Linked DNA regions of Homo sapiens. The protein of the gene in region 5 purifies or fractionates together with the protein of the main gene of each other region. This does not show direct contact. Each region holds a gene or a part of one and is shown on either strand. Other genes may lie near its edges.

Region 1 (3,932 bases), on a different chromosome or scaffold from region 5:
AGAACAGAAGATGGAGGGTTGGGGCAGGCCCATTCTCGTGTCTTTGTAGGCTGATGATGTACAGAAGATGGAGGGTTGGGGCAGGCCCAGGGCAGCCCCTCCTCAGGATGAGGGCAAAAGTCCTGGGATTTGCTTTTTTTTTTTTTTTTTTTTGGAGTCAGGGTCTCACTCTGTCGCCCAGGCTGGAGTGCAGTGGTGCAATCTCAGCTTACTGCAGCCTCGACCTCCCAGGATCAGTGATTCTCCCACCTCAGCCTCCTGAGTAGCTGGGACTACAGATGCACACCACCACATCCAGCTAAGTTTTTTTGTATTTTTAGTAGACACAGGGTTTATTCTTACATTTTTCTTTTCTTTTTGAGATGGAGTCTTGCTCTGTAGCTCAGGCTGGAGTTCAGTGGCACGATCTTGACTCACTGCAGCCTTCACCTCCTAGGTTCAAGCATTTCTCCTGCCTCAGCCTCCCAAGTAGCTGGGATTGCAGACGCATGCCACCATGTCCAGCTAATTTTTGTATTTTTTTAGTAGATATGGGGTTTTACCATGTTGGCCAGGCTGGTCTCAAACTCCTGACCTTGTGATTCACCCGCCACGGCCTCCCAAAGTGCTAGGATTACAGGCGTGAGCCACCGCGCCCGGCCTGAGATTTGCTTTTTACTCTTAGGCTGATCTTGCCTGCCTGATTGAAGCTGATCGCTTACATTTGAAAACAAAATATACTGAAAATAGAAAAACCTGAACGTTGTTATTGTCACAAGGCTGGCTAGATCTCCGGCATCTGCACACTCAGTCTGACCATTTGGGAAGCTTTCATGAAAAAGCACAGTCAGCGAGAATGAGACGAGAGAACCCATTTCCACAACCATTTTAATCTGCGCATCGGTCCCAGACGTAGGGATTCCTCGTCTCATCTTGGAAACATTGCCAGCAGTGGTTCTGATTTGGAAGCCTGCGTCTGTCACGTGACACCGTCTGAGCCTGTGCCTGCCTCTCTTTCTTCCGGCAGTGCCCTGTACTCTGTGGGGATGACGGCAGTGGGCCTGGCCATCCTGTGGTATGTTTTCCGTCTGGCCGGGATGACTGGAAGGGAAGGTGGATTCAGTGCTTTTGTAAGTTCTGTAAATCAGAGCTCTCTGAACTCTTTCTGGTTTGTGTTTGCTGAATACTTTTCCCATAAGCTATACGATGAATACACAGGGAAAACCTGTTGCAGAGAGTAGCCTGAAGCCACAATTAGACAGCAGCTCACCTTCCTTTCCCATGGTCCGGCTGTAAGGCGTGTAGTAACCAATGTTGCCTGAGGGCCTCTCACCCCTAACTCTGGGGTGCCTGAGCCTTGTGAGATTACAGGGCAGTTGAATCTGCGTTTTTCTTTTCTTTTTTTTTGAGACGGAGTTTCGCCCTTCTTGCCCAGGCTGGAGTGCAGCCGTGCGATCTCAGCTCACCGCAACTTGCACCTCCCGCATTCAAGCAATTCTCCTGCCTCAGCTTCCCGAGTAGCTGGGATTACAGGCACGCGCCACCACGTCCAGCTAATTTTGTATTTTTGGTAGAGACGGGGTTTCTCCATGTTGTTCAGGCTGGTCTCGAACTCCCGACCTCAGGTGATCCTCCCGCCTCAGCCTCCCAAAGTGCTGGGATTATAGGCATGAGCCACTGCACCTGGCCTTTCTTTTTTGTGTGTGTGTGTGTGTGACAGAGTCTGGCTCTGTTGCCCAGGCTGGAGTGCAGTGGTGCGATCTCAGCTCACTGCAACCTCTGCCTCCTGGGTTCAAGCGATTCTCCTGCTTCAGCCTTCCAAGTAGCTGTGACTACAGGTGCCTGCCACCACACCCAGCTAATTTTTTTGTATTTTTGGTAGAGACAGGTTTCACCGTGTTAGCCAGGGTGGTCTCGATCTCTTGACCTCGTGATCCGCCCATCTCGGCCTCCCAAAGTGCTAGGATTACAGGCGTGAGCCACCATGCCTGGCTGAGTAATTTTTTTTAAAGCAAATTGCTAGATAAGTTTCTTACTAATTAATGACGAAACATTTCCCTTCTGTGCTTGAAGACTGACTGTGAGCCTCGTCAGCCTGACATGAGTGAAGCCTTGGGATCCTAGGATGGAGACGTGGGGTTGGGGCGGCTCAGGTGCGTGGGCTGAGCGCTGGCATCGTGCTGCTGATTTCCTGACTTCGCCCAGCTCCTTGCACTTTGTTCTTTCTGCACAGAATCAGCTTAAAATGGCTCGTTTCACCATTGTGGATGGGAAGATGGGGAAAGGAGTCAGCTTCAAAGACGTGGCAGGAATGCACGAAGCCAAACTGGAAGTCCGCGAGTTTGTGGATTATCTGAAGGTGAAAGCAGCGTGGGCCGGGAGGGAGGTGTGAGCAGAGGCCGGCCGTCCTCCTCTCCCAGAAGGGCTCCTGCGGGACCTGGAATTCCATCGATGACGTGTCGTGGGTTGGCGGTGACCTCTACCATGTCCCATGGGGACACCAAGCAGGTGCTGGTGCCTGTTCAACCAGCAGCACAAGCCTCGTGCACATGGTTCAGCCAAGCAGAGGCTGCCAAGACCCATGCCTACTGTGCCGTTAGCCGTCCTGGGCCCTTCATCCCTTGCAAAGCTCTGTGCTTTTTCCAGAACCACATAAACACCTTAGCCAGTTGGTGGCAGTGCATGAGCTGCCTATCACGTGCGTCACTTACACGTTTCCTCCGCGGGCCTGGTACGGTGGGTCGCACCTGTAGTCCTGGCACCTCGAGGGGCTGACATGTGTTCCCTCTGCAGGCCTGGTACAGTGGGTCACGCCTGTAGTCCTGGCACCTCGGGGCGCTGAGGCAGGGGAGTGACTGAGCCCAGGAGTAGGAGATCAGCCTGGGCAACAGTGAGACCCTGTCTCTGCAAAACATTTTTTTATTTAATTAATTTTTTTTTTCGAGACAGAGTCTCACTTTGTCACTCAGGCTGGAGTGCAGTGGCACAATCTCGGCTCACTACAACCTCCACCTCCCCAGTTCAAGTGATTCTCCTGCCTCAGCCTCCCGAGTAGCAGGGATCACAGGCGCCCACCACCATGCACGGCTAATTTTTGTATTTTTAGTAGAGACGGGGTTTTTCCATGTTGGCCAGGCTGGTCTCAAACTCCTGATCTCAAGCTACGCGCCTGCCTCAGCCTCCCAAAATGTTGGAATTCCAGGTGTGAGCCACCGCACCTGGCCTGCAAGAAGTTTTTAAAAGTAGCTGGGCGTGGTGCCACATGCCTGTATATTCCCAGCTACTCGAGAGGCTGAGGTGAGAGGGTGGCTTGAACCCAGGAGTTTGAGGCTGCAGTGAGCTATCATGGCACCCACTGCACTCCAGCCTGCGTGACCCAGAGAGACCTTACCTCTAAAAAACAAAAAAACGGAATCCCCAAGTAGTTAGTGTTGCATTGTCTGCTGCCGTCCAGAGCCCAGAACGCTTCCTCCAGCTTGGCGCCAAGGTCCCAAAGGGCGCACTGCTGCTCGGCCCCCCCGGCTGTGGGAAGACGCTGCTGGCCAAGGCGGTGGCCACGGAGGCTCAGGTGCCCTTCCTGGCGATGGCCGGCCCAGAGTTCGTGGAGGTCATTGGAGGTAGGTGCTGTGGTTGGGGGCTGTGGGTGGGCTTGGCTGACTACCTGGCTCCTTTCACACATCCTTCCTCTGGTGTCTGGACTGAAAGGGACACGGGTGGGTGGGGGAGTAGAGAAGGAAAGCGAGGTCTGGGTTGGCGGAGGGGTTTTGTCTGCGAAGCACATGATGTTTGCTTCAAAGCCACCGTCACTTGTGGCCTGGGGGGCCAGCACGGTGCGTGTGAACCCTGAGGGGTGGCCAGGGGCCCCCGCGAGCAGCTGCCGTGTGTCTGTTTGTAGGGAATGGAGCTGGTAGCTTTAGTTGTCCTTGGTGTAGAACTTTGTCTGGCCCGGGTAC
Region 2 (3,932 bases), on a different chromosome or scaffold from region 5:
CATCCTGGTGAAGGTGCAGCTGGATGCTCTGCCCTTCTTTGTCATCACCATGATCAAGATCGTGCTCATTAATTGTAAGCTGGGCCAGGAGGGGGCCTATGGGAGGAGGCATGCCCAACTACCCCCACTCTTTTTTCAGACCCAGCGTTAGCCAGAGAGAAGCCCAGCCTCCGCCTGGAGGGAGTGGATGCTGTGAGCAGCTGGGATTCAGAGGCCTGAGTGGGCCTGGACCAGGGCTGGGAGGGGGCAGAGAGAAGGGCAGCTCAGCCTCAAGGCTCACCAAGAGTAAAGTAGGAATGACAGGGATCTGTCTTCTTGGGCACCCCCAACCACCAGCCCTAGCTCCCCTGCTCATGCCCGCCCTGTTTCCCCAGCATTTGGTGCCATCCTGCAGGGCAGCCTGTTTGGTCTGGCTGGCCTTCTGCCTGCCAGCTACACGGCCCCCATCATGAGTGGCCAGGGCCTAGCAGGCTTCTTTGCCTCCGTGGCCATGATCTGCGCTATTGCCAGTAAGTCCGGCTATCTACCTGCCCAGTGCCCTGGTGTGGTGGGGAGAGGGGATGGGGCCTGTCTCTGATCACTGACACCACCCCAGGTGGCTCGGAGCTATCAGAAAGTGCCTTCGGCTACTTTATCACAGCCTGTGCTGTTATCATTTTGACCATCATCTGTTACCTGGGCCTGCCCCGCCTGGTGAGTAAATGGAGGGAGCTGGGGTTTGGGGTATAGGGGTCTGGGGTTCCAGACCACGGGTGTTCTGAGGACAAAACCTGAAGGAGGCCGGGATTCTGGAGATTCTGCCTCTAAATCCACCTCCCCCGTCTCCCTTACTTGATAGGAATTCTACCGCTACTACCAGCAGCTCAAGCTTGAAGGACCCGGGGAGCAGGAGACCAAGTTGGACCTCATTAGCAAAGGTCCGAAGAGCCTGAGGAAGCTGGGGTGGAGGATGGTATACCAGGCGGGGGATAGCATGAGCAAAGAGAACAAAGATGAGTGCCCTGTGTTAGCTAGCAGCCCTGAGCCAGAGGAGGACTGAAGGACTACAGCAGGGAGAGGGGGACAATAGGAAATAAGGGCCGGCAATGATAAAATGGGGGCAGATCCTGGATGACCTTGAATGCCTGAGGTGTTTGGACTAAAGGCAGTGGGAAGCAATTTCAGATTCTTGAGTGAGGAGTAACATGACCTGAGGCTCCTGGGAGAGGCCAGGCCCCCGGGTCTTGAGTTGTAGGGATTTGGAGGCGAGGTCTGGGTTAGGGTTAGAGTACGGCTGGGACTGGTTAAGGAGGCGTCTACTTTCAAGTAATCCCAGCCGTTTTGGGGAATGTTTATGTTGTCTTCTGTTGCTCTGTCTTCCCCACAACTTGGAGATTTCTTCCATCCCGCAGGAGAGGAGCCAAGAGCAGGCAAAGAGGAATCTGGAGTTTCAGTCTCCAACTCTCAGCCCACCAATGAAAGCCACTCTATCAAAGCCATCCTGAAAAATGTACGTAGGGGAGGTTATCCTATCTTCTACCCCTTGTCCTCTTTCTCTCCTCCTTTTGCTCCCTCCCCCTGCCACCCATCTCCTCCCTTTCTGACCTGAGAGTGGTCACTCCTGGATTCTTTTGTGTGTGCGTGCGTGCCCATGCGTGCGTGCCGGGGGTGGGGATTCGTGGTTCCTTTTTTTTGAGACAGAGTTTCACACTTGTTGCCCAGGCTGGAGTGCAATGGTGCAATCTCCACTCGCTGCAACCTCCATCTCCTGGGTTCAAGTGATTCTCCTGCCTCAGCCTCCCAAGTAGCTGAGATTACAGGCATATGCCACCATGCCCGGCTAATTTTTTGTATTTAGTAGAGATGGGGTTTCACCAGGTCAAGCTGGTCTCAAACTCCTGACCTCAGGTGATCCACCCACCTCGGCCTCCCAAAGTGCTGAGATTACAGGCGTGAGCCACCACGCCTGGCCTGGATTCGTGGTTCTTTAATGCACAGCCACCATGAAGACACAGGCATTTGGGTGACTCTACCCCTTCTATCTAGATCTCAGTCCTGGCTTTCTCTGTCTGCTTCATCTTCACTATCACCATTGGGATGTTTCCAGCCGTGACTGTTGAGGTCAAGTCCAGCATCGCAGGCAGCAGCACCTGGGGTGAGGATGCCACAGGTTTCCAGGATGGGAACAGACAGGATCTTGAGTTGGGCTGGAAGTGGGGAAGGGAGGGAGCCTGGGTCACCTTCTCCCCGTTTCCTGGGTCCATTTGCCCTTCCCTGGGCTGGAAGCATCTTCTCCATTTTACTGTTGGGGAAGCTGAGGCCCAGTGAAGGTTAGGCTTGCTATACCTGCCTCTGTGAGCCTGATAACCACCCGTTCATCTCCTCTTCCAGAACGTTACTTCATTCCTGTGTCCTGTTTCTTGACTTTCAATATCTTTGACTGGTTGGGCCGGAGCCTCACAGCTGTATTCATGTGGGTAAGTGGAGGAAGAGGGCCCCAGGCCCCTGTGGGAAGTAAGAGTCCAGCCTGGACCCAGAGAGGGAACCCAAGAAAGTATGGTAGTAAGGGGACCATTTGTTTTAAAGTCGAGGCATAATTTATGTATAGTTAAGTACAAGTCTTAAGTGTACAACTTAATGAATATATGTATATACACATACCTGCCCAGATCGAGATGTAGAATATTTCCAGCACTCCAGAAGGCTCCACCATGCCCCTTTCAAGAGTAACCCCCTAAGGAGAACCAGGCTTTGAGGTTTCAGTTCAGATCCTGAGGGGCCCCAGATGGATCCTTGGGGGCCTGGCTGTGCCCTGGGGTGGCGGCCTGGGCTGAGGCCCTGCCTGGTGCCCACAGCCTGGGAAGGACAGCCGCTGGCTGCCAAGCCTGGTGCTGGCCCGGCTGGTGTTTGTGCCACTGCTGCTGCTGTGCAACATTAAGCCCCGCCGCTACCTGACTGTGGTCTTCGAGCACGATGCCTGGTTCATCTTCTTCATGGCTGCCTTTGCCTTCTCCAACGGCTACCTCGCCAGCCTCTGCATGTGCTTCGGGCCCAAGTGAGTAGGGCTGGCAGGGAACTTGGTGGCATCAGACAGGATCTAGAGTTCCAGTGGGGGACACTCAGTAGAGGGAGGGCAAAAGGAGAGTCCCTGCTCCCAGAGCTGAGAGGAGAGATGGCTCAGGAGGGGCTCCCAGGCTGAGGGGATAGTGACTGTAGTGGAGGGGGGCGCCAAGCTTACTTGGGTGGAGGTGGAGACAGGTTTGCAGGAAGGAGTGAAAGACAACCCCACCATACACGTTCCCTCAAGGAGGAGAAGCCAGGTTGGGGTTAGGCAGCCAGGATGGGTTGATCAACAGAATGAGGTTCGACAGTCAAGTTGCTCCACCCCACCCCTCCTTCCACCCAGAGGCTCTGGGCTGGGGTACAGCCATTCTGAGGTAGCCTTGCCCTTCCTTCCCCGCTTAGGAAAGTGAAGCCAGCTGAGGCAGAGACCGCAGGAGCCATCATGGCCTTCTTCCTGTGTCTGGGTCTGGCACTGGGGGCTGTTTTCTCCTTCCTGTTCCGGGCAATTGTGTGACAAAGGATGGACAGAAGGACTGCCTGCCTCCCTCCCTGTCTGCCTCCTGCCCCTTCCTTCTGCCAGGGGTGATCCTGAGTGGTCTGGCGGTTTTTTCTTCTAACTGACTTCTGCTTTCCACGGCGTGTGCTGGGCCCGGATCTCCAGGCCCTGGGGAGGGAGCCTCTGGACGGACAGTGGGGACATTGTGGGTTTGGGGCTCAGAGTCGAGGGACGGGGTGTAGCCTCGGCATTTGCTTGAGTTTCTCCACTCTTGGCTCTGACTGATCCCTGCTTGTGCAGGCCAGTGGAGGCTCTTGGGCTTGGAGAACACGTGTGTCTCTGTGTATGTGTCTGTGTGTCTGCGTCCGTGTCTGTCAGACTGTCTGCCTGTCCT
Region 3 (3,932 bases), on a different chromosome or scaffold from region 5:
CCTCGGCCCTGACTCCATCTCTTTCGGTTTCAGGTGGGACCATCCGTGAAACCGGTGCCAGGATGCACCGGGGGTGTGGATGACCGGCCGCCCAGCCCCAGCACGGCCCGGTCCCGCATGCCACCGCCCCGCGAGGACCGCTCTCCAAGGGCTGCCTGGGGCCCCGCGCCCGTACTCTCCTAACCCGGAGCTCTTGGCAGCCCATTGCTGCCTGGCTACCCGGGGAGGAGGAGGCGCAGGAGTGAGCTGCCCGAGACCGCAGGGCAAGTAAGCGGCTGACGGCGGAAAGACCCTGGGGAAGGGGCTTTGCGGCCGGCTAGAAACATTTTCCCCAAGCGGCTCCGCAAAATGACCAGCCTGTTCCGCCGGAGCAGCAGCGGCAGCGGCGGGGGTGGCACCGCCGGGGCACGCGGGGGCGGGGGAGGCACGGCCGCCCCCCAGGAGCTCAACAACAGCCGGCCTGCCCGCCAGGTGCGCCGCCTGGAGTTCAACCAGGCCATGGACGACTTCAAGACCATGTTCCCCAACATGGATTACGACATCATCGAATGCGTGCTGCGCGCCAACAGCGGCGCTGTGGACGCCACCATCGACCAGCTGCTGCAGATGAACCTGGAGGGCGGTGGCAGCAGCGGCGGCGTCTATGAGGACAGCTCCGACTCGGAGGACAGCATCCCCCCGGAGGTAGGGGCGCAGCCCGGGTAATTCCAACCACCACTGGAGGACAGCATCCCCCCGGAGGTAGGGGCACGGCCCGGGTAATTCCAACCACCACTGGAACCTCTAAGAGGACCTGGGTTACTCCGCTATCTGGGTTCTAATTAGCAAGCAGCCTTACTTCCCCTAGGGAAAAGTACCATCCGTCAGTCACCTTATTTTATGGGCAGAAATCATGCAGTCATTCAACAAACACTGAGCGCCCACTCAGTGGTGTGCGAGACGTGGCACTAGACCCTGAGTCAGGAGGCATCAGAATCAAGGTGCTTGTTAAAAATGCAGGTGCCTGGGCCCCACCCCAACATACTGAACTCCACATCAGGCGTAGAGTCCGCTAGTGGCCAAGTCAGACCAAATTTCTGCCCTCCTGGAGCTCACAGTCCAGTGTGGACTAGAAGCGCGAGTCGGGTACTGACGGCCAGAGTGGTAAGTGCTCGATGGAGACGTGGAAGCAGCAGAAAGGAGTGACTTCCCAGAGGAAGCGATGGCTAAGCCGAAACCCTAAGCTGAGACCCAAAGGAAGAGTGAAGCCGGGGGAAGGGTGTGCAGGCAAAGGGAACAGCTTGTGCAGAGTCTGGGAGGTGAAATAGTGCCTCACTGGCTAGGGAACTGGCAGCAGGACCATCTGTCAGGGTCCTAGAGTGAGAGGAGATCAATGAGGTTGACAAAGCCCTGACGCTGAGAAAAAGAGTGCGGCTGGGGCCGGGCGAGGTGGCTCATGCCTGTAATCCCAGCACTTTGGGAGGCCGAGGCAGGTGGATCATGAGTTCAGGAGTTCGAGACCAGCCTGGCCAATATGGTGAAACCCCATCTCTACTAAAAATACAAAAATTAGCCAGGCGTGGTGGTGCGCACCTGTAGTCCCAGCTACTCGGGAGGCTGAGGCAGGAGAATCGCCTGAACCCGGGAGGCAGAGGTTGCAGTGAGCCGAGATCATGCCACTGCACTCCAGCCTGGGTGACAGAACAAGGCTCCGTCTCAAAAAAAAAAAAAAAAAAAAAAAGAAAAGAAAAAGAGTGCGGCTGTATCCTGGGAGCATAGCCACGGAAAGGGAGTGAGGAATCAGACTTGCCAGTTAAATCCCTCTGACTGTGGCCTGATGGAAACAGTAGTGAGCCATAGCCAAGCAGTCTCTCCAGGGAAGTGGCTGGAGAGAGGGGACCTGCGTACTGCATCAGTACCCACCTGCTGGAGGTTGTGAGTCCTTTCCAGTCCCACCCGAGTTCAGTGGACATCTGGCCACCCAGTATCAGCAGAGCCTGAGGTGCTTGGTGCAGAAGGATGAGGCACACAGAGCCTGTTAATCAGAGGGGTGTTGTCCACAGGGCCATCTGGGACATGCAGCCATGGACAAGACCAGGACCCAGCAGGATTTAACTCCACTCTTTATTGAGTCCCGACCCGTGCCAGGCATCATCCTAAGTGCTTTAGATGTATCATATCTTCTTTTTTTGTTTGTTTTTTTGTTTTTTTGAGACAGAGTCTTGCTCTGTCGCCCAGGCTGGAGTGCAATGGCGCGATCTTGGTTCACTGCAACCTCCACCTCCCAGGTTCAAGCGATTCTCCTGCCTCAGCCTCTCGAGTAGCTGGGACTACATGCATGTGCCATCATGACCGGCTAATTTTGTAGTTTTAGTAGAGATGGGGTTTCACCATGTTGGCCAGGCTGGTCTCGAACTCCTGACCTCAGGTGATCTGCCCGCCTCGGCCTCCCAAAGTATTGGGATTACAGGCATGAGCCACTGCACCTGGCCCGATGTGTCATCTCTTCTAATCCTCACAAACTTTGTGCTGTGGCATTATTATTACCCTTGTTCATCAGCCATCCTGCAGGGCAAAGTCTCCTTGCTTTTCCTCCTTAGTGGGTGCTGCTGAGACTTCCCCTAGAGGTGGAAAAGCTCTGTTGGCCAAGACATCTGGCTCATCCCTGTGTCATCTGCAGCACCCAGGACAATCCACGCACATAGCAAGCACTCAGGGAGTGTTTGTTGAATGAGTACGTGTTGCTGCTGTCTTTGTACAGTTTTCTATTGTCTCTCTCCTTGGGAGACCACTCCTTTGATCTGCTTGGAGTAGGTGGTGGAAGGAATATTGGAAAATATGGATCCTCTTTGTAGAAAGAAGGAGAGAGAGAGAGTGAGAGTATGCGTATGTATGTGTGTGTCTGCAGATACAGTTGACCATTGAACAATGCAGGGGTTAGGGGCAGTGAATCCTCCCCTTGCAGTCAAAAATCCACTTTTTAATATAACTTTTGATTTTCCCAGAAATTGACTGCTAATAGCCTATCGTTGACCTCAAGCCTTAACTCAAGCCTTAACATAAACAGTCGACTAACATATATTTTGTGTGTTGTATGTATCATATACTGTATTCCTACAATAAAGTAAGCTAGAGACAAGAAAATGTTAAGAAAATCATAAGCAAGACAAAATATATTTTCTACTCATTAAGTGGAAGTAGATCATCGTAAAGGGCTTCATCCTCATCTTCTCACATTGAGTAGGCTGAGGAGGAGGGACAGGAGGGGTTGGTTTTGCTGTCTCAGGGGTGGTGGAGGTGGAAGAAAATCTACCTATAAGTGGACCCACGCAGTTCAAACTCTTGTTATTTGAGAGTCAACTGTATATGCTTTAAGTGTGAACTGGAAGGAAAGCTCTCTGCAAGCTCTGACCCTTTCTGCAGTCTGATTTGCCCTGACAGTCTGGCAGGTAGGGTAGTATTTTCTCCTTTGTCCATGGCCCCCACAGTCCTATAGACCTCTGCAAGGCTTCACCACCCCCTAGGTAGGCCCTTGCTGTGTGTGCACTTCTGTTTTTCTAAGAATCTTGCTCTCCAAATTGAGCCCCCTCCCGGTACCCCTCCCCTCCCTTGGCAGTCTCCCCAACCCCCCACCTTTGGAACTCTGCCTGGGCCCATAGGCAGGCAGCTCCTGAGCCAGCGGAAAGTGCTTCGGAAAATTTATGAGCCACAGCTGGAATGACAATAACTGCTGACTGGAAAAAAAAACCCTTTCTGGGGGCTGATGGATGGTGGGCTGGCCCGAGGGGTATCCTTGCCATGGAGAAGTATCTCCTGTCAGATAAATGGCCTAGACCCTGCCCCCTGGAGCACCTGGCAGGCATCCATCACCCACAATGAGTTAAGCCAGGAGGCTGCAGAGCCCAAAAACTTCAGCACCTTTAGAGCCAGAAGAACAACCTCTTTGTGGCGGT
Region 4 (3,932 bases), on a different chromosome or scaffold from region 5:
GTACTTGGATGAATGATTTTAAAAATTTAAGACATTGCTCTTATGATCCTGATTGTGTAAATATAACATACTGACTGCATGTGATTTTTCCTGCCAATTGTTAACCGGAGTTATTTTTACAGAGGGGGATGCTTTAGGTTTTATTTTATACCTTTCACATTCAAATTTTAATTTGATGTGTATATATTGCCTTTTTTATTCTTTTAAAAATATCAACAGGGATTGCCTGGGCAGTGAGGTTATGGGCCATTTTGTATTTTATACAATTTATTTTTAAAAACTCAACACTTATAATAATAAAGTTTCTGAAAAAGAGACAGTACCTTCATATCTGATTCTCCTGCGGTGCGTGTGCCCTGACAGAAGAAGTTGTATTTGCCTTCCCATACTCCTGTTACTAACTAAAAAAGAAGAAAGAGCCAGTCACCAACAGCATCTGAGCCATGTAAAGTCCTCATTGAACTTTATTAGTTGCAGAATCTGTGATAATTTACCTTGGGCTGTGCTGAGCCAAGTTTGCTCTGAGAAAAAACAATTGTAGGCAAGTGTAAACAAAAGGAAAGCTTTAATGACTTGAGTCTCAATTTCCTAAGGGGTGGGCTTAAAAGTCACTCCCAGGCTGCTGCCCTCAGAGACCTTCCTTTACCACGCTGCTTCTCTGCAGAACCCTCAGCCCGTCACCCCCTTGGTCCTAGCACAAGTGCCCAGACCAAGCCAATCACAGGCTCCCTGCTCTGCCCCACAGAAGCCTCTGGCTGCTTTCCCTAAGCCAGTGCTCCTCAAACTTGAGTGTGCAGCACCAGAATTACCTGAGGGGTGAGTTAGTAAAACATGGGTCCCTGGGGGTGTTTCTGTTCCAGTAGGTCTGGGGGCCTAGAATTTGTATGTCTAACAAGGTCCAGGTGATACTGATGCTGCTGATGTGGAAACCATACTTTGAGAACCACTGCTGTAGGCTCAGGGATAATTTAGTCCAACTTTATCTTCATTATTTCCTGTTGTTGTATGTACAATCCTCCGGATCCATGAATTAGGCTTCACAAACTGAAGGCTTCACAAGTGCCCATGCCTCAGAATCACTTGCAGCACAGTAGGCACTATGCTGTCACAGAGAGGACCCCAGAACTGGGGTACAGGCTCTACATCACAGCCCAGCAGTTATCACGGGCCCCTCCCCTCAATGGGCCCGTGATAACTGCAGGGCTGTGATGTAGAGTCTGCACCCCAATTCTTGTGTTCCCTGTCCTTGAACACAAGAGTTTAGCTTGGCGAGCAACACAGATTCCCCCCCAGGGAACAAGAGGTGATTACAAGGATCTGAAGACACCTTGTGATATTTCCACCTGGTCTGACATCAGAAATAAATGGCAAAAAATGGGTGTAGCCGCTGCACTCACGCTGGGTATCCTGCCTTCTATCTGATTTTTCTTTGGTTATCTTTCTTCTTGCCATTTTCCTTCTGCTTTGTCACCTTCTACACATAAAAAAGCACTGAGAGTTAACAGGCTTTTCATGGCCAAAGAAGAGCACAAGGATTTAGCATGGGAGAAGCATCAGTTCATGATGAAGAGCCATGGAATTAGGAGGAAGGCTTGAGTGCCAGGCCCAGCACCTGGGGCAAGCCAGCTAATTCCTGTGGGCTTTTGTTGTTTTTACTATAAAATGATGAGGTTGGACTAAATTATCTCTAAAGGGTCTGTTCCAAATTTCTGTAGCTTCATGTTAACAGACTTTAAAAACAGACCACACAACAAACTATTCTATACTATCTTTGAAAGATCAGTACCCACATGGTAATTCATTAGAAGGTGTATTAACTTTTCTGTCTTCTACTACTCTCTAAAGTCATGGCCAGTCAAGCAGGATCCATGCAGGCTGATCAGAAGTCCTAAGAAGCAAGACACAAAGTCTGAATCCAAAGTGCGTTGGAGGTCGGGGGAGGAAGCTGGCATGCACTCTTGAGACCTGGGGTGGAGAGGGAAGGGCCAGCTTAGCACAGTGCTCTTTTTGCTGCCCTTCTTTCTACCCCAGGAGGGAACCAAGGAACTACCTCCTGTGGCTTGAGGGTACAGAAAGGAAACTGGTGCTTCTTGATGAAATGTTTGTGGGACAACCGCGAATAAGAAAAATAAGGACAACGCAGTAAGGTTTTCATGAAGATAAATTCGTGCAATGTAAAAGATCCTCTTTTTTAAAACAGCAGCCTCTCTTGGCAAAATTAAAAACGTACTAACATATGACTGTCTTCATCAGAGATATTTTTGGAAATGTTACCATTTTATGAATCTTAAATCTGGAACCTACCATCACTGTTTTTTCCAGCGACTATTTTGGTTTATGGTGTCCAGAGACATCCTGGGTTGGTTTTGCTTTTGTCTGTTTTAAAATAGGATGGCTGGTGTGTGTGCACTTGTGGAGGTGTGGATGACTGCATTCATGAATGTCTATCTTGGCAGGGGTGGGGAAAATCAAGGTAGCTCTCTGGAGAAGAGGAGGACAAATCCTCTCTTGTAATTCTGCAGGCGCCTCAATCCCAAAGATGAGAACGGGTTGAAGGGGTCTTGTTAACTCAGCAGAAGGGACTCTTGGACACAGGCTTCCTTTTTAAGAAGGGATCCAGGTGGGATTGCCTTGACTCTTTAAACTAGTTAACCTAACGTTCCATTTGCCCTCTCCCCACCCATAAATGGGGCAGGGGAATCCATGTATAAAACACCTGTTGTCTTTGGAGTTTAGTTAAAGAACTCAAACCTCAGTATTGGGTGGTGAACTTTTTTCACTCCTGAAGCATAAACCAGGTATACACACAAGAAGCTGCTCACTCGGTGCCACTCCACTTGACCTAGGCCCACCATTCCTCTTCCACCTGTTGAGGTTCCCTGTAGGAGCTCTGTCATGCTTCAATGCAACACTCCCTCCACTGCTACTCACACCTACCACACTTCCACTGGGGCCGCTGTGCCCCTCAAACCACTGAATTCCATATTTCCATATTTAAAACCCTCCAGTGAGTCATCATTGCCTTCAGAATGAAACCCTGAATCCTAGGTGCAGTGTCCAGGTATTTAGTCTTCCACAACGTGGTCCCAAGCTTATCTTTCACTTCTCCCCTACGTGCACACAAATTGGACCTCTTCCCATTCTCCAAACATGCCCTTCCTTAACCGCTACACAGTAGCCAAGGGGAAAGAGCATGGGTTTGGGCATTAGCCCATTAAACCCTAGCTTTTTCACGTTTTGCTAGGTGACCTTAGCTAAGGTATTCCAACATTTTAAACTTCAGTTTTCTCAGTCCTCAAATGGGATAAACATAAGGCTCCCACCATGAAGTACATAATGCCTGTCTCACCCAATGTGGTTCATAGGATTAAACATAAGTGTTGGCAGTGACCACTGTTTTATTCTTTTCAACTAGAATGCCCTCTGCACCTATGTACCCCCATCTCCAGCTCTCAAAATCCTATCTATCCTTCAAAGTTCAGTTAAAATTCTATTTTCTTCATGATTACTCCCTTGAGCACTAGAGCCTGAGGTCTATTCTCCTTCCTCTACCCTCACCTTGCAGTGACCTGTAGCTGTTTGCTCACATGCTCCCTTTGTTAATGGGCCTGTTGTGTGCTCTTCTGTAAGATTTCGAAGGGTGGTGACTGTGGCTCCTGCATCTGCATCAACATATTCCAGCACAGGGATTAGCGTACCAGAGATGTCAAACAAATATTTGCTAAACAAATGACAAAGAGTTCAAGACTGCCAATTCTTTCCCCTAAATCTAGGCCTAATGTTTCATGTGCAGCAATAAAGAGAGCTTCATAGTATTTTAAACGAGGCTTGACTTTGTGATCATATTCATCTGAACTCTGTTCACAAGATGAAAACTCTTCATCATCAATTTCATAATGGGGTCATGGAAATTCTCAAATCTCCCTGGCTTC
Region 5 (4,003 bases):
GGCGCCAGCTGCTTTGGGGAGGGATCTCCCTACAGGAAGCCTGGTGCAAACATTAACTTCGCTCCTAAAGCACGGACCAGCCGTTGGAGCCCCCAAATCCAGTAGGGGGTGGACTCATTTTTATTCTACATTTTTCATTGCCTCAGTGTGTCCCTGCCCCCCACCACCCCCTGCCAAGGGTAATGTGTGAACAGCAGAGTTGCAGTGGATTGGGGGGTGGGAGGAGGTTTGTCCAAATGACCCAGGCACACTGCTGTTCATGCCAGGCTCATCCATATAGACATATAAGTACAACACACACAGACAAGAGGCAGGCATCTCCATCCCAAACAACATGATTCTTGGCACCAAGTAGCACCAGTGCCCAAGAAAGAAATCAGTATGATGGGGTAAGATGGGGAGATGAGGAAACCCTTCAGCTCACAGTTATGCAGGAAGTCAGAAACAGGAGGACTCGGGGAGCGAGCCAAGCAGTGTCTGGACTAAATGCAGACACCCCTCCATCCTCTCTCTCTAGTTGCCCTTCCCAACTCCCCACTCACATAATGAAACCAAGGAGTACATCCATTCATCAGCCCTGCTGCCTTCCAATTCTCATAGAAAATAGAGGAAGGATGAAAGGGTCTGCGGACAATTTGGAGAAAGCATATCTAGTCAGTGTCATGGTGCCATGGGGGAACTGCAGGAATCACACTAGCCCCAATGCCCAAAATGACAGGGAAGTGATCCAATTTTAGGGCAAGCTCTGGAGCTCCCAGATCTAAGGGCTGGAGCACTAATTATCTGCTGACACACAGCCCACCCCCGGCCCCAGCCCATTCCCTGCCTCACACTCAGAAAACAGGATAGAAAGCTTAAACAGGGTCAGTCTCTGCAAGCTTTGGGATCCTTAACCCTTAGTAGCCCTTCAGAACAAGAAAGTAGACAGGGGAGAAGGATGGATGGAGGGAGGGGGACGAGCTGTAGGAGGGGATTGGTGCCAGAAGGCAGGGATAAGGAGCGGCAGCTGCAGAGAGTGGTGGGGGAAAAACTACAAGGAAAGAAGGGAGGAAAGACGATTGCAGATCTAAGAAAGCAGCAGAGGGAAACAAGCTTTTACTGCGTCCAGACTCAGGCTTCAACATTTTAGGATCAATATGACTTTCCCCCATTTCATACCAATGGAGAAACTGAGGCTGAGTGAGATTAAATGGCTTGTGCAGGGTCAGGTCTGTAGAGCCCAGTCTCTTTCCCCTAAACCACAAACCTCTGAGAAAGAATAAAGCAGTAGAGGAGGACAGGGCGGGGCAGAATCAGGGGACAGTTAAAGGATGTGCATAGGACAAGGAGTAGCCACACTACCTGATTTTCAGAAAGCAAGGGCAAAGGCCGGGGAGGGCCGAGGGCGCCAGGCTTCTCTCTGCTCCCAGCCCTAGTCAACCACAAGGGTCTCCTGGCTGTAGGGGATGGATTTCTCGTGCATCTGTTCTCCACCCTTGCCCATGTTGGGGCCGGGCCCCTGGCTGTGCCCCGAAGAGTAGCTGGCTGACTTCTCCCCACTGCTGCTGTGGGAGGTGCCTGCGCACCTGCTCTGGCCACAGCAGAGCATGGAGGTGCAGGCCTGGCGGAAGCGGGGGTCGAAAAAGGCATAGAGGAAGGGGTTGAGGCAGCTGTTGACGTAGCTGATGCAGGTGCAGTAGGGGAAGATGTTCATGAGGAAGAGGTCAAAGTCACAGGGCCAGTGCAGCAGGCTGCCCAGCATGTACAGCGTCTTCACCAGGTGGTAGGGCATCCAGCACAGGGCAAAGGTCACCACCAGCACCACGATGATGCTGAGCAGCCGGCGCCGCTTCCGCAGGCCCTCGATGCGTTCCTTGCGGAAGTGGCCAGCGATGGTTTGGGCGATGAAGAAGTAACAGGTCAGCATGATGGTGAAGGGCACCACAAAGCCCACGGTGGTGGACGAGACCCCAAGGCCCACCTCCCAGGCCCACTCTGAGCTCACAGTGGCCACCATGGAGTAGTCCATGTAGCACTGCACCTTAGTGGTGTTCTCCAAGTCCCCGGTGGTGCGTAACACCATGACAGGCATGGCCAGGAGGGCGGCCAGCACCCAAAGAACTGCCGTGGCCACGGCCCCGCTGACCCGCAGCCTCAGCCGAGCATTGGCCACTGGCCTCACGATGGCCAGGTAGCGGTCGAAGCTGAGGCCGGTGAGGCAGAAGACGCTGGCGTACATGTTGACGAAGATGAGGTAGCTGCTGAGCTTGCAGAAGAAGGTCCCAAAGGGCCAGTCATAGTCCCGGTACGTGTAGGTAGCCCACAGGGGCAGCGTCACCACGAAGGTCAGGTCAGCCACCGCCAGGCTAGCAATGAAGATATCAGCTGAGCGCCTCTTCTCCCGGCTGCTCCGAAACACGGTCCAGAGCACCAGACCGTTGCCCGTGGTGCCCAGGAGGAAGACCAACATGTAGATGGCAGGGATGAGGGCCCCCGAGGATTTCCAGTCTGTGTACTCACACTCAGACTGGTTGTCTGCCCCATAGTAGTTGTCAAAATCACCACCTTCCTCCATGCTGGGGAGTGGAGAGAAGACGGGCAGAGGGTCCCAGGGACACCAGCTCCGTGGCTCTGTCACCCACTCTGCAAGCAGCCTGAATTTCTGGCTTGAGCCTCAGAGAGTAAGAAGGGCTGAAGATGCCCAGAGTCCTTCCCAGCACTCAGGAGGAGCTGCCTCTGGGTTCTCCAGACCCTGGAGGAAGCCTGTCTCCTGCAGAATTTCCTCCACCCTCTCTTGCCTTACCCCCGTCTCAGTTAAGACACTTCCTTGCACCCTCCTGCGTCCCTGTCTCCTCCTTGACTCGTCACTCCCTCCTCCCACCTCCAGACCAGCCCCTCTCTTGTGAGTCAAAATCTTTAGTGACAGCCCACTTTTTTTTTCTTTTTGTCACTGAGCAAGTGGACCAAATTGACCCCTACTGTGCTGGGCTGAACATTATCTGTGGTTTTGCAAGTCGGCTTTCCTGGCCCCGCCTCTCCTTTCTGGCTGCCACCCACCTTCACCCCAGCCCCTATCCCTCCACTTTCCTCTGGCCACCACTTCCTGCCTGCCCTTTAGGGCACTCCCTCCTCAGTGCTCTCCGCCCTCCTGTTCTCACCCCCTTCCATCCAATCTAAATGGGACACATTATGCAGATTGCAATCCAGCTTGAGCTGGAGCCAGGGCTGGTAGGGAGCAAGGAGGGTGTAAGATTTCGCAGGATGGGCAGGGCATCTGGCAGGTCCTCCTGGCAGGCAGGTCTGGCCCCCTCGGCTCCCTTCCTGCACCCCCAGCCCCCACCCAGACCAGGTGTCACAGGAGGGTCTTCTCCCACTTTGCCTCTCGCTTCATCTTTCTCTACCCCTTGGCTTTGACCCTCCCTCTGAGAACTTTTGTGGTTTCTAGAGAAATACCCCTACACTAGTGTAGACTGCAGTTTGCAGTTTGCGGAAGGCACAGGATGCTTTAGAAGGTTGAGGGCAGTCACAGGATGGAAGAAACCCAGGACAAAATTATCTCTAAACAAGTCATTAAATCTGTAGGAAACAAAGGCCCAACAAGGTCAATGTTTTGCCCAAGGTAATAAAGTGAATTATGCTACAGTTGATTGTTTGCTTTTCTTCTTCTCCAAACACGAACATAATACAGTACCTGGCATGTCGTAGGTGAATGGCTGTTTTGTTTGTTTGTTTGTTTGTTGAGACAGAGTTTCACTCTTGTTGCCCAGGCTGGTCTAGGCTCACTGCAACTTCTGCCTCCTGGGTTCAAGCGATTCTCCCGCCTCAGCCTCCCTAGTAGCTGGGATTGCAGGCTAATTTTTTTGTATTTTTAGTAGAGATGGGGATTGACCAGGCTAGTCTCAAACTCCTGACCTCAGATGATCCACCCACCTCGGCCTCCCAAAGTGCTGAAATTACAGGCATGAGCCACCACGCCCAGCCAGGTGAATGGCTGTTGAGTGAGTAAGTGGATGGATGATGTAGG
Region 6 (3,932 bases), on a different chromosome or scaffold from region 5:
ACACAACGGGGCTGTGTTCCCAGAGCCAGCCGGCACCCTGCCCGGGAGGGCCCTGCTGCCACGGATCCTGTCCCCTGCCGCCAGCGCGGGGAGCAGGCAGCACTGAGGCCCAGGCGCACAGGAGACCATGCCATGTGCCCAAGGCATGCCCCGTCACACTGCATTCCTGGGGCCTCCCTCCTGCCATGAAAGTCATTTGCATGCCAGGCACTGTTGAGGAGCTGGGGGTTCAGCAGCACCTATAGGCCGATCTGCTTCCCCTCGTGTTGCTGACTGCTGGGTGAGGGGAGAGGGTGATAAATAAGGAAACACTCCACTGTCTGAGGGTGCCCGGCCCTCAGAGACCATCCATCCAGAAGGTGCAGATTTCAACAGGGCGGCTGCAGGAGGGTGTGAGGGTGCCGGGTGCGGGGAGCTGGAGCTCTGCTGAGTGGGCATCTGGAGCCTAGGGCCTGGGGACACGGGTGGCTGCACCTTGGCCTCACTGTGTCTTTCCTCGCAAAGAGGAGAGGGCAGCCCATTCCCCCAGAATGTGTTCTCTGCTTCTAGGGTCCCTATCTCAGCCCCATCCCGGGGTTTCCTCAGTGTCAGGAGAAACCCCCGCATCTCTGTGTCTACAGCCTCTCTGGTGCCAGGTCTGCACCAGTCACTTCGCCTCCACCCTTCTTGCCAGGAATCTTCCGAACCAGGTGGCAGCTCAGGTGTCGGCAGCTGGGGATGGGGTTACACACCCCGGAGACGGACACGCCTGGCTTGTGACAGGACAGCTGCTTGCCAGTGAGCTGGGGAAAGTCACAGCCCCTGCCTCCTGCCCTGGGAGCCCCTCCCCACGGGAGGAACTGCCTGGGGGCTGTTCAGAGTCACTAAGGACACAGGTTGTGGAATCAGACAGACCTGGCTTTGAACACTGCCTTTATCCTTATTAGCTGTACAGACAAGTATATAAGCCTTCTGTGCCTCAGTTTCCTCACCAGGAAAATGGGTTAGTCACCACTTCCCTGGGCTGTTGCTGGGAGGCGAGTTGCCCATGCCTGGCTGGGGCTGGGCACTCAGGATCCTTATCATCATAGCTGCTGTCGTGAGCAATATTCTGCCTCTGGGGGCATGACACTCTCAGCCATGGCTTCTCACAGTTGGTGGATACGAGTTTGTTCAAGGAAGGAGCTGAGGCCTGGGGGCCACTGGCTGGGCAGCCCTCAGGATCAGGCCCACCAGAGCCTCTGTGCATTTCCTCAGGTCGTGGTTCCTTGAGATGGGACCGCAGCTCCTCCCCGACTACAGGGAGCAGGGCTCAGGGCAGCCCCAGGACACCTGCCTGGGAGGGTCCAGTACAATGGGCCCTGTGTGTGAAAGGGGGTCAGCATCGTGCTAGGGGCCGGGGGCGGCCCAGAGGCTGCCTGGCCCAGCCCCGCAGTCCCCTAGCTCCCATCTGAGGTCCCACCAGGTAGGGCCCCCCAGCTTCCCGGGCTGGCTTTTCTCACAGAGGAAATTCCACAGTAGACCCTAATTGGATGTCCTCTGCTCCGGTGTTGGGTGGGAGAGTGCAGTGGTGTCTGGGGAGAAGGCGCAGGAGCGCTGCACTGTCCTGCAAGCCGGCTCCCTGCCCTTCAAGGCCTGCCTGGCTTAGGCCAGCCTGTGGCTCAGGAGCCCAGCTGCCCTGGCTGAGGCTGGGGGCTGCGTGTCCCATCTCAGTGTCTGCATCTGTCGAGGCCCTGTCCCTCCCGCCCATGGCCTGGACAGCTCTTCTCAGGTCACAAACATTGGTGGTGGGGGACAGAGGTTTAGCAGACCTGTTCCCTGCATGAGAAATACCCCATGCCCCACGGAGCCAGGGCCGGGTTGTAGTGATGGTACCGCCGTGAGCCCTCCTCGAGAGCACAGTCACGTCCAGGAAGCCTACTCGGAAAAGGAGGCAGTAGCCGGGGCGGGGGGGGAGGGGTGAGACTGCCATAGGTGGAGCGGGAGGGATGCTGAGATTCTGGCCTTGGTCAAGTGTGAAGGTGCCACTTGCGCAGCTCCGGGTGACAGCTGCAGACCCCACTCCTGCCTTCCTCCGCCCCTGGCTGGGCTGCAGGTGGCAGCAGGAGCTTGACACAGTTTGACAGGGTGAGGCCCCACCCAGGAGAGGGGCAGCCTATGGGGCAGTGGGCCACAGGCCCTGGGCTTTGCCTAAGTTTCCTGGGAATGCCTCCCAGGAGAGTGGGGACAATGTGATGTGCACCCTTCATGGGGTGCCGCAAAGGCCAGGTGGGCCCCAGCCGGGGGCTCCAGTCTCAGCTGCTTTTCCCCAAGGGGAGATGGGGCCGGAGGACACCACACTGGGCCATGACCTGGGGCTCAGGGCACCACATCTGCCAGGAGAGTCAAGTCGTGCAGGTTTTGGGCAGGATGGCCTCCCGGAGCCATAGCCCAGCTTTGGTCCTTGTCCCCTGACTCCTGGAGCTCTTGGTGTTCACTGTAGTTCCAGCTGCACCGATCAGGCACAGGGAAGTCCTTCAGAAGCTTAGGTTGAGGGGATTCCTGTCTCCCCCATCGCTCCACTGGCCTTGAACCCAGGCAGAATCCTGTTCAGTATTGTGCTTCTCCCCCTTGGGGTGGTGTCTCCTGGGGTGGCTGCCTGGGGCTCTAAACACTGCTCCTTTGTCCCTCACAGGCCATCAGCATCAGCAAAGCCATCAACACCCAGGAGGCCCCCGTGAAGGAGAAGCACGCCCGGCGTATCCTTGGCCGGCTCTTGGACCCAGGAGTTGGGTGTGGATGTGGGAGCAGCGTAGTGCTGCAGGTGGCCTGCGGTCAGCTGTGCCGGGGTCACAAGTTCCCTCACTGAGCCCGGGGAGGAGGGTCCTGTGCAGCTTGGCTCCTTCCCATCTCAGTCTCATCACAAAAACGCCCCCATTGGGCCCAATGATTTCCTTGTCTTGCCCTAACTCCTGTCCCCTTGGCTGGACACTGGAGCTCTGGTGACCCGGGGTTGATGGGCACGTGATTGGGGGCCGGCCCTCTTCCGGCGGCCCTGGCCTCTCTCAGCCGGGTTTGCTGAGCCCCCGTGCTCCAGTCTCTGCTTCCACACTTGGCCTTGACATTGCAGGCATCATTCTGGGCACACACCACGAGAAGGGGGCTTTCACCTTCTGGTCCTACGCCATTGGGCTGCCGCTGCCCAGCAGCTCCATTCTCAGCTGGAAGTTCTGCCACGTCCTCCACAAGGTCCTTCGAGACGGGCACCCCAATGTGAGTAGCAGCTGCTGCCTCTGCTCCCCGGAGCTGGGGCACTGTCCCGCGGACATGCGGGCTCTGGCCCTGTTCCTGTCCCCGTAGCTCCGGGCTGTTCCTCCCGCCTCGGGTGGGGAGTGCGTGTCTCAGGGCCCTGCCACACGGTCCTGGACACTCCCCCACTCCCGTATTCCCTGCGCTGCAGGTGCTGCATGACTGCCAGCGGTACCGCAGCAACATCCGGGAGATTGGAGACCTGTGGGTAGGTCCAGCCATTCTAGGTCCTGCCTGGCATTCGGGGCTTTCCTGAGCGTGTGGGGCTGAGCGAAGGGTGGCTCCCTGTGGGCAGTTCCCTGCGGGTGGCTGGGTTTTCCCAGGGGCGACAGTGGGAGGGGCAGCACGGGGAGATGCTGCCTGCCTTTGAGGGCCTGGCCCAGGGCGCTCCACACGCATAACCAGTGGGCCCTCCAGCGTCGAAGTCACCCGGGCCCTTTAGTCCTCACGAGTTGGGAAATGTGGCAAGACCACAGCCCGGGCACCTCGGTGGTTAGAGAGCCTGTGGCAGGGCGCAGGTTCCTGGGCTCCCCCAGACCTGCTGCTGAAGAATCAGGACTGGAGGTCTGCATTTTGAGCACACACACAGTAAGGCCTGAGAGCCCTGGGGGGCCTGCAATCTGGATGCACTGCAAGACCTCAGGAGTTAGAGATGTCCCTGGTGG
Region 7 (3,932 bases), on a different chromosome or scaffold from region 5:
TGGTACATTACATTGATTGATTTCCTCATGTTTAATTACCCTTGCATTCCTAGGATAAATCTCATTTGGCCATAGTGTATAATCCTCTTTAATATACTGTTGGATTTGGTTTGCTAGTATTTTATTGAGAATTTCTACATCTATATTCATGAGGGATTTCTGTAATTTTTTTAGAGACAAAATCTCACTGTGTTGCCCAGACTGATCTTGTACTTCTGGCCTCAAGCAGTCCTCCTACCTTAGCCTCCCGAGTAGCTGGAATTATAGGCATGAGCCACTGTGCCTGGCATGAAAATTTTTTTTTTTAATTTATGTTTGAGACAGGATCTTGCTACATTGCCCAGGCTGGTCTTGAACTCTGGAGCTCATGCAGTTCTCCCACCTCAGCCTCCTGAGTATCTGAAACTACAGGCATGTTCCACCATGCCCAGCTCTGTAATTTTCTTTTTTTGGTGATGTCTTTATCTGGCTTTGGTATCAGGGTAATGCTGGCCTTATAGAATGAGTTAGGAAGTGTTCGCTTCTCTTCCACATTTGGAAGAGCTTGTGAATGATTAATGTTAATTCTTTAAATATATGGTAAAATTTTCCAGTTAAGCCATGTGTATTTTCTTTGTTGGGAAGTTTTCGATTACTGATTCCATTTCATTACTTGTTAAAGGTATACTCAGATTTTCTAGTTTTCTTGAGTTAGTTTTGATAGTTTGTGTCTTTCTAGGAATTTGTTGTGTTTCATTTAGATTATTTTAGTTGTTGACATATAATTGCTCATAACTTTTTCTTATTTTTATTTCTGTAACATTCTCTCTTTTGTTCTTGAATTTAGTAATTTGAGTCTTTGTTTTTGCTTGGTCATTCTAGATAAAGGTTTGTCAATTTTGTTGATCTTTTCAAAGAACCAACTCTCTGTTTTATTGATTTTTTTCTCTATTGTTTTTGTTTTTTCTTTTTTTTGAGATGAAGTCTTGCTCTGTTGCCCAGGCTGGAGTGCAGTAGCGCGATCTTGGCTCACTGCAACCTCCGCCTCCTGGGTTCAAGCGATTCTCCTGTTTCAGCCTCTCGACTAGCTGGGATTACAGGCACATGCCACCATGCCTGGCTAATTTTTATATTTTTAGTAGAGATAGGGTTTGCCACGTTGGCCAGGCTGGTCTTGAACTCCTGACCTCAGGTGATCTGCCTGCCTTTGCCTCCAAAATTTCTGGGATTACAGGCATGAGCCACTGCACCTGGCCTCTCTATTGTTTTTCTGTTACATTTACATCTGATCTAATCTTTATTACTTTCTTTCTTCTGCTTGTTTTGGGTTGGGTTGCTCTCTTTTTTATTATGATGGAACCCAACCTTACGATGGAAGTTTGGGTTATTAATTTGAGATCTTTCTTATTTTTTAATATTGGTTTTTACAGCTATAAATTTTTCTCTAAGAACAGCATTAGCTTCATCTAAAACTTTTTGGCATGTGTGTTTTCATTTACCTTTCTTCAAAATATCTTTAGTTTTCCTTATTATTTCCTCTTTCACTGGTTATTTAGAAGTGTGCTTAATTTCAACATATTTGTGAATTTCTAAAATGTCCTTCTGTTATTAATTTCTAATTTAATCCCATTGCAGTCAGAGATAATAATTTGTATGACTTCAGTTTATTTTAAGTTTATTGAGGCTTATTTTATTGCCTAACATAGTCTGTACTGGAGAATGTTCCATGTTCCCTTGAGAAGACTGTGTATCCTACTGTTGTTGGAGGGAGTATTCTATAGAGGTCTGTTAGGTCTAATTAGCTTAGAGTATTGTTCACGTCTCCTATTCCCTTTTGGTCTTCTGCTTAGTTGTTCTATCCATTATTGAATGATGAGTAGTTTTTATGTCTTTTCAGGCTCTGTTGTTAGATGCATATATGTTTATACTTTATATATTCCTTATTGATTGACCATTTGCCGTCATAAAATATCCTTTATTTCTAGACTTGTTTTAAAGTCTGTTATGTCAGATATTAGTATAGCTGCTGCAGCTTTCTTATAGTTGCTCTTTTCATGATATATGTTTTTCTGTTTACTTTTAAATATGTCATTAAATCTAAAGTGTATCTCTTGTAGATAGCACATCATTGGATCTTATTTTTATCCAATTTGAGAACCTATGCCTTTTGATTGTTTATTCATATTTAATGTTATTATTTACATAGTTGGATTCACATCTGCTGTTTTTCTTGTGTTCTATGTCTCATTTCTTTCTTCCTTTTTTTTTTTGCTCCTCTATTCCTTTTTTACTGCTGCTTTTGCATTAAGCAAATATTTTCTGGTGTAATATTTTAATTAGTGATTTTTTGGGAATTTAGAAAAAAGTTAGTTCTTAGTGGTTGCTCTCAGAATCTACTTCAGAATTAGTCTAATTTCCAGTAAGGTATAGAAATGTTACTCTTATATAGCTATATTCCTTCTTTCCCTTTTTTTGTGTTATTACAATAATACATTACTATAATTGTTACTTTTTATAATTTTTTGTCTTTTAAAGAAGCAGAAAGAAGAACAGAGACCAATATGTATTTTTAAAGTTTGTTATATTAAGTTTCTTATTTACTGTTTCTGATTCTTTTCATTTGTTGCTGGGTTTTTAGTTGTCATCTTGTGTCATTTTCTTACTCCAGAATGGCTTTGCTCCCACATACATCCTTTGTGTTGTGATTGTCCATTGTATTACATATATTCTATATATATTTTATATGTTGCATGCCACCAATACAATTATGTACATGTAGTTTTATGCAACTGCTTCCACAAATCAGATAAGAAATGAGAAGTATGCATTTATACTGTATTTTATAATTACATAGTTACCTTTACTGGTGTTCTTTGTGTGTGTCTGTGTGTGTCTGGTCTGTGTGTCTGTGTGTGATCAAATGGTCATCTGAGTTCACTCTTAATCGTGAGGAAATTCCTTTTGTATTTCTTGTAAGGCTGGTCTGCTTGAAACTATTTCCTGTTTTTTTTGTTGTTGTTGTTTGTCTGTTTTTTTAAAATCTGGGCATGTCTTTATGTCATCTTCATTTTTGAAAGATAGTTTTACCATATGTAAGATTTTTAGTTGACGGGTTCCCCCCCTCCGCCGGCCAGCAGTTTGAATATGTCTTTCCACTGCCTCTGGGCTTCATTATTTCTGATGAGAAGTCAGCTGTTAATCTTATTGGAATTCCCTTATGTAATCAGCAGTTTCTTGTTGTTTTCAGGATTTTCCGTTTGTCTCTCATTATTTTACTATGATGTACCTGGATATGGATCTCTTTATGTTTATCTTACTTGGAGTTTGTTGATCTTCTTAGATATGTAGGTTAATGTTTTTCATCAAATTTTGGAAATTTTAAATTATTTCTTTAAATAGTCATTCTGTTCCTTTCTCTTCTCTACTTTGGTGCTCCCATCTCATGTATGCTGGTGTGCTTAATGATGTCCACATTTATTTGAGACTCTGTTCATTTTCCTTATTCTTTTTTCTCTCCTGTTCTTTTTTCTCTCTTACTGTTTTTTCTCTCTTGTTCTCTGATTGCATAATCAGACTGTCTTGTATATTCACTGATTCTTCCTTCTGCCAATTCACATCCACTGTTGGGACCCTCCAATGAATTTTTCATTTATGTTACTGACTTTTCAACTCTGGAATTTCCAATTATTAAAAAAAATAATTTCTACTTCTTTATCCATCTCTATTTGGTAAGACATTGTCATCATACTTTCCTTTGCTTCTTCTTTTTAGTTCTGTGAGCATAGTTATTATGGCTGCTTTGAAGTCTGCTACATCCAACATCTGGGCCATCTCATAAGCAGTTTCTATTGCCTATTTCTTTCTTTCGTTTTTTTTGAGACAGAGTCTTGCTCTGTCACCCAGGTTGGAGTGCAGTGGCACAATCTTGGCTCACTGCAACCTCCGCTGCCCAG

What was found.
Region 1: the proteins of APLNR (region 5) and SPG7 purify together in Homo sapiens (affinity purification with mass spectrometry; 2 studies listed by BioGRID and IntAct, with this or other methods). This does not show direct contact.
Region 2: the proteins of APLNR (region 5) and SLC29A1 purify together in Homo sapiens (affinity purification with mass spectrometry; 2 studies listed by BioGRID and IntAct, with this or other methods). This does not show direct contact.
Region 3: the proteins of APLNR (region 5) and CUEDC1 purify together in Homo sapiens (co-immunoprecipitation; 2 studies listed by BioGRID and IntAct, with this or other methods). This does not show direct contact.
Region 4: the proteins of APLNR (region 5) and ELOVL5 purify together in Homo sapiens (affinity purification with mass spectrometry; 2 studies listed by BioGRID and IntAct, with this or other methods). This does not show direct contact.
Region 6: the proteins of APLNR (region 5) and HIP1R purify together in Homo sapiens (affinity purification with mass spectrometry; 2 studies listed by BioGRID and IntAct, with this or other methods). This does not show direct contact.
Region 7: the proteins of APLNR (region 5) and EXOC6 purify together in Homo sapiens (affinity purification with mass spectrometry; 2 studies listed by BioGRID and IntAct, with this or other methods). This does not show direct contact.

What each region holds. Positions count from the first base shown.
Region 1 is NC_000016.10:89,528,471-89,532,402, forward strand, and holds part of SPG7 (mitochondrial inner membrane m-AAA protease component paraplegin isoform 1 precursor), read left to right. Parts: intron 1-1,006; coding exon 1,007-1,109; intron 1,110-2,212; coding exon 2,213-2,338; intron 2,339-3,433; coding exon 3,434-3,596; intron 3,597-3,932. UniProt on the Homo sapiens protein: Catalytic component of the m-AAA protease, a protease that plays a key role in proteostasis of inner mitochondrial membrane proteins, and which is essential for axonal and neuron development.
Region 2 is NC_000006.12:44,229,973-44,233,904, forward strand, and holds part of SLC29A1 (equilibrative nucleoside transporter 1), read left to right. Parts: coding exon 1-74; intron 75-374; coding exon 375-509; intron 510-595; coding exon 596-693; intron 694-838; coding exon 839-917; intron 918-1,391; coding exon 1,392-1,489; intron 1,490-2,025; coding exon 2,026-2,134; intron 2,135-2,370; coding exon 2,371-2,456; intron 2,457-2,834; coding exon 2,835-3,034; intron 3,035-3,444; coding exon 3,445-3,556; 3' UTR 3,557-3,932. UniProt on the Homo sapiens protein: Uniporter involved in the facilitative transport of nucleosides and nucleobases, and contributes to maintaining their cellular homeostasis. Functions as a Na(+)-independent transporter.
Region 3 is NC_000017.11:57,881,981-57,885,912, reverse strand, and holds part of CUEDC1 (CUE domain-containing protein 1), read left to right. Parts: intron 1-33; 5' UTR 34-348; coding exon 349-684; exon of another isoform or gene 685-741; intron 742-3,932.
Region 4 is NC_000006.12:53,275,856-53,279,787, forward strand, and holds part of ELOVL5 (very long chain fatty acid elongase 5), read right to left. Parts: intron 1,217-3,932; exon of another isoform or gene 1,138-1,216; intron 402-1,137; coding exon 324-401; intron 1-323. UniProt on the Homo sapiens protein: Catalyzes the first and rate-limiting reaction of the four reactions that constitute the long-chain fatty acids elongation cycle.
Region 5 is NC_000011.10:57,234,451-57,238,453, forward strand, and holds the start of APLNR (apelin receptor), read right to left. Parts: upstream 2,801-4,003; 5' UTR 2,555-2,800; coding exon 1,412-2,554; 3' UTR 1-1,411. UniProt on the Homo sapiens protein: G protein-coupled receptor for peptide hormones apelin (APLN) and apelin receptor early endogenous ligand (APELA/ELA), that plays a role in the regulation of normal cardiovascular function and fluid homeostasis.
Region 6 is NC_000012.12:122,845,378-122,849,309, forward strand, and holds part of HIP1R (huntingtin-interacting protein 1-related protein), read left to right. Parts: intron 1-2,653; coding exon 2,654-2,717; intron 2,718-3,088; coding exon 3,089-3,231; intron 3,232-3,418; coding exon 3,419-3,475; intron 3,476-3,932. UniProt on the Homo sapiens protein: Component of clathrin-coated pits and vesicles, that may link the endocytic machinery to the actin cytoskeleton. Binds 3-phosphoinositides (via ENTH domain).
Region 7 is NC_000010.11:92,854,929-92,858,860, forward strand, and holds part of EXOC6 (exocyst complex component 6), read left to right. Parts: intron 1-3,932. UniProt on the Homo sapiens protein: Component of the exocyst complex involved in the docking of exocytic vesicles with fusion sites on the plasma membrane.